Regions from separate parts of the Homo sapiens genome. Here region 1 is linked to region 2. The links come from fine-mapping of genetic effects on plasma protein levels. A gene starts in region 2. The other region holds a variant in brackets. All regions are shown on one strand. Distances are from middle to middle. Region 1 has its middle 25 kb from the start of VWC2. Region 2 holds the start of VWC2 (von Willebrand factor C domain containing 2).

The links. PIP is the chance, under the fine-mapping model, that this variant and not a neighbour inherited with it causes the effect. Protein levels are from antibody-based Olink assays in UK Biobank. Linkage for the fine-mapping came from a reference panel and not from the study's own genotypes, which makes the PIPs less certain.
Region 1: its variant is fine-mapped to the plasma level of the VWC2 protein (UK Biobank, PIP 0.92).

Annotation. Positions count from the first base shown.
Region 1 is chr7:49,746,947-49,749,853 of GRCh38, reverse strand. No RefSeq gene overlaps it. Among named protein-coding and RNA genes, the nearest start is that of VWC2, 25 kb to the left of the region's middle. The variant A/G (reference allele first, on the strand shown) is at 1,591.
Region 2 is chr7:49,772,390-49,775,296 of GRCh38, reverse strand. It overlaps VWC2 (von Willebrand factor C domain containing 2), which reads right to left and starts at 1,659. Exons shown (of 4, transcript NM_198570.5): 1 at 1,184-1,659.

The DNA of each region.
Region 1 (2,907 bases), 25 kb after region 2:
GTTTGTACCATTTTTATCCTCTATAATTTGTGTAACCAGGGGGGAAAACCACTATTTTGCAGCCACATATAAACACTTGGTTTTAATTAAAAACCGTATGCTGGGCTTTCTTAGTTCTTACCAAAATATAAGTAGAAGCTTTGGAAGCCTCGTTAAGACACAATTTTGGGAGGTCTGTGCTCCTGGTCATTGATTTTCCTGGAAAAGAATGTGTGCATGCAGAAACATCTTAGCATATCCTGTTATATATTATAAAATGCCATGCTATTTGTGATGCCCTTTTAAATTTTAAATTAGGAGCTAAATGCTCACCTGTTTCTTCTCATACTTTTAAATTCCTGTAATTATTCTTATTCAGCCTATTGATGTGGCATATTAAAGCAACAGTGCCTCCCTTGGTTTAAATGCCGATTGCACAGATGAGGACATTAACACAGGAGATTGCGGTGACTTATCCCCGGTCCCACAGGCATCATGATCAGACAGCTATTCGTTACTGAGTTGTCCGTGAAAGCCTTTCACCTTGCAGTGGCTTTTCCCACTTTCTCTTCCAACAACACTAGTAATAGGCCTTCCCGAATTTCCAGACTCAACACTCTTAAAGAATCACATTCCATCCAGTGCACTATAGTAATCAACATGTTTTACCCATTACAGTAATACTCCAGTTGACAGAATCAAAGCCACAACCCTCTCAGTGGGCCCAAGATGCAAAATTGCAGCCTGATGGGGTGATTCACCTGCTCCTCTGTCCCATAATCCTCCTGTCACCCGCTGGAGGCCACAGGTCCTTCTGGTGTCCTTCTTTGCTTATATGCCCTTGATGGAGGATGGTAGATGAAAGAGGGAGGTGGTGAAGAAGAGGGCATTTGGGGAACCTCTCTAATTTCAAGTTACTTTAAGACCTGGAATGCAAAAGTTGTTAGAATGAACATCTTGCCTTTTGACTGAACTAAGGGCAAAACTGGGCAGCCTTTCCTCCATAAGTATTCTGTTGTAGCGGTTTGTTTTTTAGAGTCCCTTTTCTTTTCTTTCTTTCTTTCTTTCTTTCTTTCTTTCTTTCTTTCTTTCTTTCTTTCTTTCTTTCTTTTTTTTTTTTTTTGAGACAGGGTCTTGCTCTGTCACCCAGGCTGGAGTGCAGTGGCACCATCTCAGCTCACTGCAAGCTCCACCTCCCAGGTGCATGCCATTCTCCTGCCTCAGCCTCCCAAGTAGCTGGGACTGCAGGTGTCCGCCACCATGCCCGGCTAATTTTTTCTATTTTTAGTAGAGACGGGGTTTCACCATGTTAGCTAGGATAGTCTCGATCTTCTGACCTCGTGATCCGCCTGCCTCAGCCTCCCAAAGTGCTGGGATTACAGGCGTGAGCCACCGCGCCTGGCCTAGAGTCCCTTTTCAGACTGGAGAAGTTCTCTTCAATTTTTAATTTGCTTTGCATTTTTATCATGAATATATGTTTAATTTAATCGGGTGTTCTATCTGTATCCATGAGATGATCCATTTTCTCTTCTTTAGTCTATTAATAAGATGAATTACATTGACTGACTTTCAGATTTCGAGCCAGCCAAACATACTTGATCATGACATATT[A/G]GCATTTTTACATATTGCTGGATTTTATTTGTAAGAATTTTTGAGGATTTATGCATCTATGTGCACAAATGCTATTGTTCTGTGGTTTTCTTATAGTATCCATTGTCTTTCATACTTTGAATGAGTTTGCATAGATTCGGTATGATAGTCATCCACCACATAAGGACATACTGGTCAATGATGGACTGTCGTATACACTATGGTGTCCCCATAAGATTATAATGGAGCTGACAAATTCCTATCGTCTAGTGGCATCATAGCCCTCATAATGTAGCATTACTCATGTGTTTGTAGTGATACTGATGTAAGCAAACCTACTGCACTGCCAGTTGTATAAAAGTATACCAAATACCATTAAGTAAATTACCTAATACTTGATAATCATAATAAATGACTATGTTAACTGGTTTATGCATTTACTATACAACACTTTTAATCATTATTTTACAGTTTACTCCTTCTACTTATAAAAAAACAGCCTAATCAGGTCCTTCAGGAGGCATCCAGAAGTAGGCATTGTTTTCATAGATGACAGCTCCCTGCCTGTCATTGCCCCTGAAGGGCTTCCAGTGAGACAAGATGTGGAGGTGGAAGATGTGATACTGATGCTCCTGACTCTGTGTAGGCCTAGACTAATGAGTGTGTTTGTTTCTGATAGAGTTTGTATATTTGCCCCCGCCTAAATCTCATGTAAATGTCATGTTGAATTGTCATCTTCAGTGCTGGAGGTGGGGCCTGGTGGGAGGTGCTTGGATCATGGAGGCGGGTTTCTTATGAATGGTTTAGTGCCATCCTCTTGGTGCTGTCCTGGTAATAGTGAGTGACTTCTGAGATCTGGCTGTTTACAAGTGCATGGTGCCTACTCCCACCTTACACTTGCTCCCATTCTCCTTATGTAATGTGCCTGCTTCAGCCATGAGTAAAAGCTTCCTGAGGCCTCCTTGGAGGTAGATGCCACTATGCTTCCTGTACAGCCTGCAGAACCATAAGCCAATTAAACCTCTTTTCTTATAAATTACCCAGCCTCAGATATTTCTTTATAACAATGCAAGAATGGCCTAACACAGTGTCTTAGTTAACAAAAAAGTTAGAAAAAATTAAAAAATAGAAAAAGCTTGCAGAATAAGGATATAAAGAAAGAAGAAGATATTTTTATATAGCTGTGCAATGTGTTTTGAGCTGTTATTATAAAAGAGGCACAAAGTTTAAAGTTAAAAAGTTTATAAAGTAAAAAAGTTAAGGTAAGCTAAAATTAATTTATTATTGAAGAAAGAAAAATATGTTATACATTCAGAATAGCCTAGGTGTACATTGTCT
Region 2 (2,907 bases):
CCCGCGCGCGCCCCGGCCCGCCGCGGCCCCCACCCGGGCTCCGGCATAGCTCTAGATTAACGAGCTGGGCGACGGGGGCGGGGGCAGCATGCCCAGCGTCGGTGCACGGCCGGGGTTCTTAGACATCACAAACTGTGGAGCGATACATTGGAAGCGAAATCCAAGAACGACACCGGCCGGCGTGTTTCTGATGTAGTCGTGATTAGTGTTGGAGATGGCCAAGGGCGGCTTGCGGAGCCCAGGGAACGCAGCGAGCCAGGCCCGCGCCCCCCTGCAAAGCTCTGCCTTGAACCACGTAATTCAGGCACCCAGGGTGTCCCTCCCTAGGTCCTGGCCACATTTCCCGAAGGTTATTAAATGGAGAATTCAGCAGTGGAGTTAGAGACGGACGAATGTACAGGAAGATAAGAGGGAAACTCTTCCTCATTTGCTTTAGGGGGTTGTGCTGGGAAAATGCGGGGAGGTTAAACAAAGCTTCTCCTAGGACTCCACGATTCATTTCTAACAACTTCTTAAAAGACTCCCGTCTCGGGAGCAGACGCCCCCTCCCCGCTCTCTAAGCCCCGCTGCATGAAAGGATGCCCTCGGCCCCTTGCCAGAGGGCCGGGTCGGGGATTCCCGGGGCTTCAGCTCCTCTGCCGGCCCGCCCCTCCGAGCCTTGGGAGCCAGGTCGCCGGCCGCAGCGCTCAGTCTTGTAGTGTCCTGGCTGCGGAGCAGAAGCGCCCGGGCAGCACCAAGGTGTGCAGTGCGGGAGGCTGGGGCCCCAGGGCGCAGAGTGGGCGCGAGACCCTCCTACTCGCTGGATCCCGGCCAGCCTTTCTGGATTCCAAAGTTTCTGCCGCCCAAAGGGGCTGGGAGAGCCCGAGACGCCGCAGGACACCGGCAATCCAGCCTCTCTCCGCCTCACTCCCCGAACGCCCCCACTCTGCGCACTCCGGTGCGTCTGTCCCCTCCCCCTCAGCCCTCCTCCCTGAGGGCTCCGGACGTGCCCGGCCCTGCTGACCCCCTGCCCGGTCCCTGCCGACCTCAACACTGGGCGAAGCGCCCATATTCACAAACTTGGGCGGGGGAGGGGGTTCCTCCGGAGCAGCTGAGCGGCTGAACCCAGCTGGAGCGCGTCCGGCCGCGCGGGGACACCCAGCATGCACCCTCAGCCCTGAAGACCGGCGCCAAACCTACATACATGAGCGCAGGGCGCGGGCCGGACGCCGGGCTCGCAGCGGGCGCAGGGGTAGCAGCGGCGGGCGCGGGCCCGGGTTGCCAGCGCCCATCCTGGGCCGGCCGGCGACCCGCGTGGGGCGGACCACTAACAGCCCAGCCCCACCTGCGCGCTCCGCCTGGCGCGCACACCGGGCTAGGGCGTCTCTGGGGAGTCGCTCATCGCGCTGTCAGCTGCCGGTAGTCGCGGCCCCAACTCGCGTCAGTGCCCGCGTCGCCCTCAGTCGCTCATCCTCCGGCCTCGTCCCCGCTTCTCCGAGACCAAGCGCGCCCCGGGGGCCACCCTGGCGCCGCCTCGCTCCTCTCCGCGGAGGGGTTCGGGGAGCTCTCCAGACCCGGCAGCCGGAATGTCTGGGCAGCCGTGGCGCGTCGGAGGGAAAAGAGAAGCCCGGAGCGCGGCCGGCGCGCGAGTGGCACCGAGGCCAGCATGGGAGCTAGCGCGCCCGCCTCCCGCCTCCCCCTGCCGCAGCCGCCTCCGCCCGGCTCCCGTTCCGCTCCCTCCTCTGCTGCCCCCGCTCTGGAGGCCCCGCCTTGGCCCGCGCTGCCCCGGGGGAGGCCCTCGCGCTGCCCCCGGAGAGGCCCTACCGCCGCACCCGCTCCCTTTGCTGCGCCGGACCAACCTGTCACTCGTCCGCGCGGCCGCGTCCCCACCTCCGCAGCCGGCCGCAGACCCTGCCAGGGCTGCCATTCTCCAGTCGAGTCATTCACTTTGCGCTGGACCTTTCATCTTGGCTTTTCTCTTTTCTTTAATTTCTTCCTTCCTAATTGGCCCCCTCTGGCTTTCCTCTTTGTGGACAGCTTGTTTCAGCTACTGTGTTCAGATTGGGATTCGAAGGCCGTGTTAGTTTAGCAGACTGTTGAGACTTTCTCGTCTTTGCATTCAGAAACCCAGAGAAATAGACGTTTACGAGTAAGAAACGTAAAAATCTCAAGCGCGAACTTTCTGAATCTCTGCCAATCTCTCCCCGCTCCCATCTTCCTCTTTCTGCCTGCTCTCTCTTCTACTACAAATAGAAACCTGTTTCCTAACTTTGCTAGAATCCTCAACTGTTAAGCAGAGGCCCGGTTGTTTTTACTCTTTGATCTTGTGTAAACGAGAAAACGTCAATAGTACCTGTTCAAATTAATCCCCGAAATTGAATTTTCATGGAAATGGCCCATGGCAGTGGTTCCCACTCACGGCATTTTAGAATCCCTGAAAGTGCTCGGACGGTAAACAGATAAGCTTCCCTGCAAGGTCAGGCGCTCTGGCTGGTGGGAACTGGGGAGGCTGGTTTGGGACACAGTTATGTCTATCTTTTAATAGTATAGACAAACAAATCTTAGCTGAGGTGCTAGGGAGCCCTCCTTGAAAGCCTGAGAAGGCTGCCCCTCCACCCCCTCCAACACATACACAACCAACAGGGCTGGATGGAGGATTTCTTTCTCTCTCTCTCTCTCTTTTTTTTTTTTTTCAGACGGAGTCTCGCTCTGTGGCCTAGCCTGGAGCGCAGTGGCGCGATCTCCACTTACTGCAAGCTCGATTCCCGGGTTCATGCCTTTCTGCCGCCTCAGCCTCCTGAGTAGCTGGGACTACAGTCGTCCGCCATCACCCCCAGCTAATTTTGTTTTTGTATTTTTAGTGAGACGGGGTTTCACCATGTTGGACATGATGGTCTCGATCTCCGGACCTCGTGATCCTCCTGCCTC